3 linked regions of the Homo sapiens genome follow. The protein of the gene in region 2 interacts with the protein of the main gene of each other region in a pairwise test. Each region holds a gene or a part of one and is shown on either strand. Other genes may lie near its edges.

Evidence for each region.
Region 1: the proteins of CEP126 (region 2) and CRCT1 interact in a two-hybrid assay, tested with the Homo sapiens proteins (one large-scale study listed by BioGRID and IntAct).
Region 3: the proteins of CEP126 (region 2) and POLD1 interact in a two-hybrid assay, tested with the Homo sapiens proteins (one large-scale study listed by BioGRID and IntAct).

The regions. Positions count from the first base shown.
Region 1 is NC_000001.11:152,512,912-152,516,588, reverse strand, and holds CRCT1 (cysteine-rich C-terminal protein 1), read right to left. Parts: upstream 2,108-3,677; 5' UTR 2,037-2,107; intron 1,332-2,036; exon of another isoform or gene 1,228-1,331; 5' UTR 1,206-1,227; coding exon 906-1,205; 3' UTR 581-905; downstream 1-580.
Region 2 is NC_000011.10:101,921,413-101,925,062, reverse strand, and holds part of CEP126 (centrosomal protein of 126 kDa), read right to left. Parts: intron 2,423-3,650; coding exon 2,303-2,422; intron 1-2,302. UniProt on the Homo sapiens protein: Participates in cytokinesis. Necessary for microtubules and mitotic spindle organization. Involved in primary cilium formation.
Region 3 is NC_000019.10:50,408,212-50,411,861, forward strand, and holds part of POLD1 (DNA polymerase delta catalytic subunit), read left to right. Parts: intron 1-495; coding exon of another isoform or gene 496-573; coding exon 574-690; intron 691-910; coding exon 911-1,024; intron 1,025-1,307; coding exon 1,308-1,455; intron 1,456-1,729; exon of another isoform or gene 1,730-1,813; intron 1,814-3,650. UniProt on the Homo sapiens protein: As the catalytic component of the trimeric (Pol-delta3 complex) and tetrameric DNA polymerase delta complexes (Pol-delta4 complex), plays a crucial role in high fidelity genome replication, including in lagging strand synthesis, and repair.

The sequences.
Region 1 (3,677 bases), on a different chromosome or scaffold from region 2:
CCTCCCCAGCAAGCAAAGCAGTAGGTCAATGAACTTCCATGCCAAAAATAAAAAATAAAATAAGACATAAAACTAAAAAAAAAAAAAAAGAAGACAGCTGGCTTGATTCCAAAGCCCCAAAGAGTTGCCAAAACAAACTTTTACCACACAGCTGCCTGGACCTGGTGGTCGGGAGGAGCACCTCAGTGGTAAGGCTTGGGAAGCCCAGGTGAGAACTCAGCAGAGCAATGAAGCCCTTGAATCAGATGTCCTGTCTTCTTTATCATGCGCCAGCTGGGTGACTTTGAACAAATTACTTAACCTCAGTTTCTCTTCTGTAAAATGGGTATAATTGCACTCTCCTACGCAAGTCATTATGAGAATCAGATTGTGCCACATAAAGTCCTGAGAATATTCAAGGACTTTGTCGCATAAAATCCTTAAAATACTCGAAACAGTCGATATGTGATCGCTGCTATCATAATTAACTATCAGAAAGCCACCTTCTTGTTCAGGCATGAATTATAGTATTCTGCCTTTCACAAACATTTCAAGCCTTTCTACCTGGGTGGAGAAACGAATGAAGAACAAATAAAAGGTGTTCTCAGGAGGTAGAAGCTTTATTATGACATCTTCAAAAGACAATCAAATCAATAGACATTTGCTGAGCACCTGCTGTGTGCAAGCCCGTGTAGACAGTAGGGTCCAGTGTCCCACGCATGGCTCTCGAATCCCCGGGGAGAAAAATCACATCGGGGTCAGGGAGTTTTGCGTGGCTGAGAACAAAGTGGGTTTCTGAACATCAAAGTGCAATTCGCTTTACGGGGCAAACTCCGAGGCCCAGCCCCGCGTGGGAGCCGCAGCGGGGCGGGCCCGCTCTGGGCTGGGCGGGTTTCTCTAGCGCAGCGCTGGGGGTTGCGGGCCTCTCAGCAGCCGGAGCAGCATCCTGAGCTCCGGTTGTTGGAGCGCTGGGACCTCTGGCTGCCGCCCCCGCAGCAGCAGCAACCACTACTCCGCTGTCGGCGGCGTCTCCTTGGGAAGCAGCAGCAACTGGTGGAGCTGGAGCCGCAGCAGCCTGAGTCGCCGCAGCAGCCCCTGCCGGAGCCGCAGCAGGAGGAGGAGGAGGCGGGCGCCGGGGTGGGCGCCGGGGCGGGACACGGAGCGGGGCCCTGGGACGACCCCTTGGAAAAGCCTTTGGCGGAAACGGCGCTCTGTTGAGAGGACATCGCGGAGCTCCTCACGACAAACCTGGAAGAAAGGCAGCCTTTCAAAGGCGAGCCGGCTTTTTCTTTCCACCAATGGAACTCTGTCTGGGCTTTTGAGATTCGGCTTAGTGTACAAGTCAGCCTGGCCTGGGACAAGGAGGGAAAAGCACCCAGAAAGAGCGGACGCAAAGAAGCAAATCCAAGCAGGTGTTTCCAGTGAGTTAAACATGCTCAGAGCAGGACACAATCCATGCAATGAATCAATGCATTTCCATTTTCTCTGACTAGAAGAAGACTGCTCAAGTTCTCCACAGTGGAAAATAAACAGCACACTGCGGCAACTTATCTGTATGATCCAGTCCAAAATCTCCACTTGGCTTTTTTCTTGTCCCTCATTTTACTTTCCTACCGACCTTCGACTGTATCTTCCTAGTTACTACACCCCCATCAGTTAGAAAACACCCAAGTCCAACAGGCGGTCCCACCTGCTGGGTCTAAATAATCCACAGGCCAGAAGCATGTCCTGATCATTCTTTCTTGCCTACGCCTCTCATGCCCCACAACCATGTGGGAAAGGAGAGTTGTGCCAATATAAATAACCCCATCCAGGGAGCTGAAAGACCTGGGTTCTAGTCACAGCTCTTCTGCGGACTTGCTGTGTACCCTTGCAAAAACCACCTCCTATGTTGCCTTTATGTCCTCATTAGTACCTTAAGAGGTTGGCTCACTAGAAGCGTAGGTGCCTTGCGGGACACCCCTTCCACATCTATCTGCTGCCTGTGTTCTGTTTGCTCCTCCCCTGTGCCCTCAACTCATCCCACCCTCTCCCCCAGACCCTGCTAGGAGACTTACCAGACCCTGGCTCCACTGAAAGACTCACTACGTTCTCCAACTGGAATGGGCCACCTGCTAGGCAGTGGATTGAGCAGCGTCCAGCCAGAGAACCTTTTTATAAGAAGTATTCAGGTTCAGGCTCTTGGGAGGGGCCCATTTCCCAACAGACGTGCTCAGCTGACACTCACATCCCAGAGACATTCATCACTCAGGTAGCATTGTAGGTGGTGCATGTGGGCATCTAAGTCACTTCACAGAGGTGCCAGGATTGCTATGGCATGTTTACTTTCCAAACAGGGCACTGTTTGTACCTGGGAGGCTGTGTGTATGCTAAGAGAGGGCATGGGGCTCAAATGCAGGGAGGTCTGGAACCCCTGCCCTTGTCTTCAATACACACACACACACACACACACACACACACACACACACACACAGACGGCTCCACTTGCCCACACATCCATTCCTATGTAGTCATCTACTTGGTAGGTGGTAGTTCACCTATTTTTATCTTGATTCTCATCTCTCTGGCTCTTGGTCCTTGGCTCCCCAGGGCAGACCACAAGCTATGCGATAAGCCTGCTGGGTTTCATCCATATGCTTCAAGATGCAGTGAGTGAAGATGATGACGGGGATGCACCTTTGGGAACCCCAGGGGTGATTTCTCTCTGTCACTGGAGACAGGAAGAAAAACCTAGGCAAAGTTAAGGAACCATAAGACCAGAAAAGTTGTGAATGTAGTCAGGTTGCCATATCCCCATAATACAGCATGGTATGACAAAGAGAAAAATGTGTGCAGGACAGTGGCCCAATTGCAAAAAGGCTAGTCAGCCTGTGGGACTCCTGCTTCTTATCCCACCCCCAACCACCAATCTGCCTTTGAAGATAAGTTCTCCCTAGGGCCACTGCCCAGTGCAAAAGAAAATGGGAAAGGAAGAAGGGAGGGAGGGAAAGAAGAAAAAAAAGAGAAAGAAAGAAAGAAAGTTCTTTCCAAAGGTCCAAAGTGTTCATGATAGATAGTGTTTTCAGAATAACTAATTTTTAAGAATTGGAGGATACTTTGGCAGTCAACTTCAGAACTGCTTCTTAATCAAATTGCCCACAACTGTGAATGTGAACTATAACAGAAGTCCAAGACTAAGAATTCAGGAATTAAGGATGAGAGACAGGTTTGGGGGCGAGTGAGCTGGGAGTGGCTCAAGGGACTAGGCGAGGAAAGATAAGTCACAAAAGATACCAGTTTCATTTAACATGGATTTAGAGCCTGATTAACAGGTTGCCAGTTCCTAGAGCACCTGTTGGTGAGTATAGGTGAGACATTCCAAAAAGTAAAGTCAATATTAGAACAGAGAAGGAAGTAATGAAATAACAAGACAGAGGCAGGATCTCCTCTGGGAAAATGGGCAAAGTTCTTTTAAAAAAAAAAAAAAAGAATGAAGAACGTTTGGTAGGAATCAGTATAAGGAGATAATCTGGGCAAGTGCCTACTCATTCTGTGGGCATCCTATGATCTCATAAACCAGCTTACTTTATTTATCGCTATTAACTCTTATCAAAGGAGGCATCAATTGTTTATCTTTTATATTAAAGGCTGATTTGGAATTAACTTTTCTAGTTATCTTTTCTAGGTACATTATGAGTGTCTCCTGAAGGAACCAGCCC
Region 2 (3,650 bases):
CAAAGGGGACTTGGAGGGAAACAAAGGGGACTCCATTGTATAGATACTGACTGAGAGAATGGAAAACTTGAGGATGTGATAAAAGCATACAATGCAAGAAAAATATTGGCTAATAGAAATGCAATAAATAATAAGAAAATAAAAATGTGTGTGATTTAAAGCAACTAATGAAAATAAAGAGAACTTGATGCTAGGAACATTTTCCTTTGACTTCTGCTGGACACATAACACTGACAATGTCAATGTATAACTGACAAATGGCAGGAGACTGTCTCTACCTGAAGAAAATACTATTTAAAAAAAAAACCCAAAACCACCTATAATCCCAGCACTTTGGGAGGCTGAGATGGGAGGATCACTTGAGGTCAGGAGTTCAAGACCAGCCTGGCCAACATGGCGAAACCTTGTCTCTATGAAAAACACAAAAAAATTAGCCGGGCACGGGGGTGCGTGCCTGTAATCCCAGCTATTCGGGGGGTTGAGGCAGGGGAATCGTTTGAATCTGGGAGGCGGAGGTTGCAGTGAGCTGAGATTGTGCCCCTGTACTCCAGCCTGAGTGACAGAGTGAGACTCCATCTCAAAAAAACAAAACAAAACAAAAAACCACACACACACACACACACAGCCCCAAAACAACAACAAAACAAAAAAATCCTCTGTGACCACAATGTAAGTGGACAGCATAAACTTAAATGATGTAAAGTATAAATTGATAGACAATGGCATGGTTAAGAAGACCATAATCATAGACAGCTTCTGAAATTCGGATGTGCACAAATAATTCAGCCCCCTTATAAAAGGTGAAATACAGAGACAAATGATTAGTGTTTTAAAAGAAATGTTTATGTATCTTTACATTGCACTTTAGGGTAACGGAAAATAAAACACAATAATATTGTATTGGAAAATGTCCTGCCTCTTAGAATTTTAAACCAAGATTTCTTTTCTGTTATTTTCTACATAAGAATTCTTACATTTGATGAGAGAATACAAATAGAAAATTTATTAATAAAATTCCATAAAGGCTTGCTATTAAAGTTGATTATTGTAAAATAAACAACTGATAAACATTAATAATAAAAAATAAGAAGTCCTATGTGTCAGACACTGATATTTTTACATGTATTCTCAAATATTCCACTTTATTTCTACCCTTTCTGCTCTACACCAAAATCCCTTGAAATAGATGTAATTAATTCCAATCATAAATGAGAAAACTGAGGCTTAAAGACATTAAACAGACATCCTTTAATTCATAGAGCTAGTATTTCCTAGATCTCTGACTCCAAAGTCCATTACTCTTTCAACATATGATTATTCATCTTTACTGAACACCTGTCACACGCCGTTTATAGATGCCAGGAGCCCAAAGGTAGGAGAAAAGCAGAAACCTATGCATACAAAATAAAATTCTAAATTTCAGTAAATAATTTCAACTACATCAGACAATAAAAAAGTTAATCTGAAGAGAAACATAATGCCAGGCAAAAATTACAGGTAAACAATTTTTTATTCCCCAAATGGGATTTGTTAACATATGCCCAGTGATGTAGTTAATAAAGTCTAGGGATTTTCTGCTATTCATATATTGTAGAAATATGGACAAGGTAGCAAAAACAACAATTAAAAAATGGCATAACTGCTCTGTCTCAAAAAAAGCCTAATATTTAAAAAACATCCTGAAAAATGTTAAGCAGTGATTGAACAATTTGTACTTTTTCTTTACTATAGTTTCTAGTTTACCCTAGAAAGCTCCTTTTTCTAGCATTCACTTATAAAACATTTCTACCACTTCTACTGTTATTCATATTGCTACCATTATTCATATTTTTCCAATTTTTATACCATTATTCATATTTTTTCCAATTTTTCAGATTGAACGAATGAAAAGTGGCAGATATAGAAAAATTATATAGAAGTGAATAACAAATTAAACTCAAACTATATACCAAAAGACTAAATATTAATTGGTAATTTTAAAATCATCATGAAATCATGAAATGATACAAAAAAAGAAGATAATACATTTCATAGTCATTTTAAGAAGTGTATATGACAATGCAATAAGCTGTTCTATGACAAAAAAAGACTGCTACTGTCAGAGACCTAGATAATACACCACCACCCTTGTGCTTTGGGAAGGAAAACAATAATAAAATTTACAAAGCCACACAAATCTTGATCAATGTTTCACAGATAACACTGCCATGACTTAGTTTCATAAAGTGCTACAAAGTAGAGAAACTATTACTTTATATTGACTTTGAATTTCTATACTTCTGAATAAAGTGCAATTACTTACTTTTTTCTCCGATTTGACTCCACAAAATATTTACGTGCTCGATTTCGACATATTTTTTGTTGCTGCAGTAATATCTGGCGCTCTTCTTCTAAATTTTTCTCCAGATGGATTTTCATATCTCTAATGATAGCATTAAGTTAAGAACAATGGTCTACATCTTTAGTGGATGACTGTCAGTGCTATATGATAAATATAACTACAGCCTCATGCAAATGATGTAATGATAGTTTTTGTGGAATAATTAGTATGTGCCCACATTAGTATATGACTGGCAAACATTTTATGTAAAAAAAATTCGGGGCTGGGTGCGGTGGCTCACACCTGTAATCCATCACTTTAGGAGGCTGAGGCAGAAAGATCACGAGGTCAGTAGGTCAAGACCCGGCTGGCCAACGTGGCAAAACCCCGTCTCTACTAAAAATACAAAAATTAGCTGGACGTGGTGGTGCATGCCTGTATTCCCAGCTACTTGGGAGGCTGAGGCAGGAGAATCGCTTGAACCCGGGAGGCGGAGGTTGCAGTGAGCCAAGGTTGTGCCATTGCACTCCAGTCTGGGTGACAAGAGCAAGACTCCATCTCAAAAAAAAAAAAAAAAATTCTGACTTGGTATTAGAAAGTAAGATATAGCTCACTTTTCCTGGAGAAAAAAAATCTACTTTTAGAAATCATGAGCTCAGGCTGGGCGCGGTGGCTCACACCTGTAATCCCAACACTTTGGGAGGCTGAGGCGGGTGGATCACCTGAGGTCAGGAGTTTGAGACCAGCCTGGCCAACACGGTGAAACCTGTCTCTACTGAAAACACAAAAATTAGGCGGGCGTGGTGGCGGGTACCTGTAATCTCAACTACTCAGGAGGCTGAGGCAGGAGAATCTCTTGAACCTGGGAAGCAGAGGTTGCAGTGAGCCGAGATTGCGCCACTGCATTCCAGCCTGGGCAACAAAAGCGAAACTCCATCTCAAAAAAAAAAAAAAAAAAAAAAAAAGAAATCATGAACTTCAGATAAAGAGGACTGTATATCTTCATTCATTACACAGTTTTTTTTTTTTTTTTTTTGAGACAGAGTCTCACTCTGTTGCCCAGGCTGGAGTGCAGTGGCATGATCTTAGCTCACTGCAACCTCTGCCTCCTGGGTTCAAGTGATTCTTCTGCCTCAGCCTCCCAAGTAGCTGGGACTACAGGCATGTGCCACCACACCTAGTCAATTTTTGTATTGTCAGTAGAGACGGGGTTTCACCATGTTGGTCAGCCTGGTCTCGAACTCCTAACCTCAGGTGATCCACCTGCCTCGGCCTCCCATAGTGGTGTGATTACAGGCGTGAGCCACCGTGCTTGGCCTCATTACACAGA
Region 3 (3,650 bases), on a different chromosome or scaffold from region 2:
GCAGTGCCAGCTACTCGGGAGGCTGAGGCAGAAGAATCGCTTGAACCCGGGAGGTGGAGGTTGCAGTGAGCTGAGATTGCGCCACTGCACTCCAGCCTGGGTGACAAAGCGAGACTCCGTCTCAAAAAAAATAAAATAAAATAAAATAGTAGATTAATTATATATATTATTTTTCTTTTTCTTTTTCTTTTTTTGACACAGGGTCTCACTCTGTCACCCAGGGTGGAGTGCGGTGGCATGATCTTGGCTTACTCCACCTCCTAGGCTCAAGCAATCCTCCTGCCTCAGGCCCCTGAGTAGCTGGGACCACAGGCGTGCACCACCACACCTGGCTAATTTTTAAAATTTTTTTGTAGAGATAGGGTTTTGCCATGTTGCCCAGGCTGATCTGAAACTCCTGAGTTCAAGCGATCCTCCTGCCTCAGCCTCCCAATGTGCTGGGATTGCAGGAGCGAGCACTGCTCCCAGCCAATGAATGATTTTTTTTTTTTAAAGGGTGAGGCCACAAGACAGGGCGGGGGCGGCATGGGAACTCCTAGCCCTGACTCCCGGCCGCGGCTGCTCCCCTCCCAGGTACTACGACGTCCCCATCGCCACCCTGGACTTCTCCTCGCTGTACCCGTCCATCATGATGGCCCACAACCTGTGTTACACCACGCTCCTTCGGCCCGGGACTGCACAGAAACTGGGGTATAGTGCCCAATTCAGCATGTGTCCCCCGAGGCCCATCTGGGCCTTCCCTTGGGGGGCTCAGTCTGGTGGGGGGCATAGGCACAGGCCCAGAGATAGTAGGGAGTGGAGGGGTGCTTGAGGGGCCTGCGTGTGCTCATGGCCAAGGCCAGGACCGTAGGGCAGAGGTGGGCTGGAGCAGGAGGGTGGCCGGCAGTCACCCCAACATCTTCCAACCCAGCCTGACTGAGGATCAGTTCATCAGGACCCCCACCGGGGACGAGTTTGTGAAGACCTCAGTGCGGAAGGGGCTGCTGCCCCAGATCCTGGAGAACCTGCTCAGTGCCCGGAAGAGGTGAGCCCTGGAGATCGCCTGCTTGGAGCTCAGACCTGTTGGGGCCTCTGGGCAATCCCTGTCCCTCACTGGGACACCCCAGGGCTGCCCAGCCACCCTGCCCTCAGCTGTGCGTGAATTAGCACAAGGCATCCCCTCCTGGCAGCTTCCTTTTGCCCCCTTGGCCAGAAGCTTCTGTGCAGTGCACAGTACGCCCAACCGTACATGGCACTCACTTCCAGAAAGGAGCCCTGACCAATGCCCAGGTGCCGCCTGAGTGTGCTTTCCCCGTGTTCCCTCGCAGGGCCAAGGCCGAGCTGGCCAAGGAGACAGACCCCCTCCGGCGCCAGGTCCTGGATGGACGGCAGCTGGCGCTGAAGGTGAGCGCCAACTCCGTATACGGCTTCACTGGCGCCCAGGTGGGCAAGTTGCCGTGCCTGGAGATCTCACAGGTGGGCACTCGGGCCCCTGGAAGGCAACTGGGGGCAGGTGGGCCCCCTGTGTAGGAGACCAGGGCTCCATGTGGGGGACCTGTATCCAGAGGACTGGGCACCCCAACTCACTGGCCTTCTAGAGAGAGGATGCCAATGTGGCTTGAGCAATTGGTCCATTCCTTCACTCAGCAAATGCCTACTGAGCACACACTGTGGTCAGGGCTCACTCTGTGCCCTGGGGATACAGAGGGGAACAAAATGGATGAGAGCTCCTGTCCCTGTCATCTTGCAGCCCAGTGGGGACACTGACAGGTCTGTGTAAACGTGTTTAGGACACAAGTGGCGCTACGAGCTTTGCAGCCGGATAAAGCAGGAGGTGCGGACTGTCGGGGAGTGATGGGGCTGGGCGGGACTCACCCCTCTCAATAGGCGACGCTCACACAGAGGCCAAGGGACGTGGGGAGGGAAGCCATTCACCGTCCCCACGGCAGCGTCCCGGTCTGCCTACCCACGGCAGCTCTGCTGCTTGAACAGAAAAACAGATTCTTTGAAACCACAGAGGGCCTGAGTTTCCGAGATTGCCAAGCTGGGGTCAGTGCCCCAGCTCCTGGCATATGAGGGCCTCGGAAGGGTCTTCCTGTCCAGCCTTCTCCCCTGGGACTTGAGTCTTGGCCCATTCCAGGCCAGTAGTTGTGCTGCTCTGCTTGGTTACCTCTAGCCACGGGGAGCTCCCTCTCTGGCTGGGCACTGCGCCACTTTTCACAGGGCTCTGGGTGGAAGGCTTGGATGAATTCTCAGTGGGTGGGGCCTTTGCACACACCCACCCACCCGCAGTTCTGGGGGTCCCAAAGACCACTTAGGTTCAGTGATTCACTAGAAGTACTCAGAGAGCAGAAAAGCTGGTTCTCATGGTTATGATTTAATACAGCAAAAGGACACAGATTAAACTCAGCAAAAGAAAGAGGTGCACAGGGCAGGGTATAGGAGGGACCAGGCGTGTCTTCCAGTTGTGCTCTCCCAGTAGAGTTGCCAGGCTGGCCCTCCTTCCTCCCAGTTTTGATGCGTGCCTGCACACATGCAGCATTGCCAACCAGAGGCTCTCACCCAAGCTTTGGGGTCCAGGGTTTTTCTTGGGTGTCAGTCCTATAGGCATGGAGCACCCTGTGACTGGCCTTAGTGACTCCATCATCCCCAGGCCCCTCAGCAACCCCCAGAGGTCAAACTGATACTGCATGGCCCAGGGCCCTACCATAAACCATGTTAGTGTCAACTACCTGGTGTGGTTCAAAGTCCCAGGTACACAAACACCTTTTTTTTTTTTTTTTTTGAGACAGAGTCTCACTCTCTCACCCAGGCTGGAGCGCAGTGGCACAATCGTGGCTCACTGCAGCCTCAACCTCCGGGACTCAGGTGAGCCTCCCACGTTAGCCTCCCAAGTGGCTGGGACTGCGGGCACGTGCCACCTATTTTTGTTATTTTTTGTAGAGATAGGGTCTCGCCATGTTGCCCAGGCTGGAACAGAGACACTGTTATCAGGCGGGATATTCTAGGGGCTTAGACTACCAGGAGCCAGGCAAGAGCCAGACCTTTCTTTGCACAAAGTGAATCGCTCACTGCATGCTCCCAACTCCCCTCTGCCTTTCACAGTCCCCGGCTGCCTCCCCAGCCTCCTTGGTGGAAAGGGGTGGCTGTGTGGACATCAGGCTCTAGCCCTGAAGCAGAGGCCAGGCCAAGAGAGCACAGCTTGGCCCTCCCCTGGGGCTGCCTCTTACCAATCCTGTGTCTCTGTCTTTTCTCTCTCAGCCGCTTCCCTCTGTCACTGTTCTGTTTCTGTCTCTTGACCTCTTTCCTTATTTCTGTCTCTCAAGCTTATGGGAGCAAGAGGTGGAATAATAAAAATGCAATGAATTGGCTGGGCGCGGTGGCTCACGCCTGTAACCCCAGCACTTTAGGAGGCCGAGGCGGGCGGATCACGAGGTCAGGAGTTCAAGACCAGCCTGGCCAACATGGTGAAACCCTGTCTCTATTAAAAATACAAAACATTAGCCAGGAGTGGTGGCAGGTGCCTCTAATCCCAGCTACTCGGGAGGCTGAGGCAGGAGAATCGCTTGAACCCAGGAGGCAGAGGTTGCAGTGAGCCGAGATTGCGCCAGTGCGCTCCAGCCTGGGCAACAGAGCAAAACTCCGTCTCAAAAAAAAAAAAAAGTAATGAA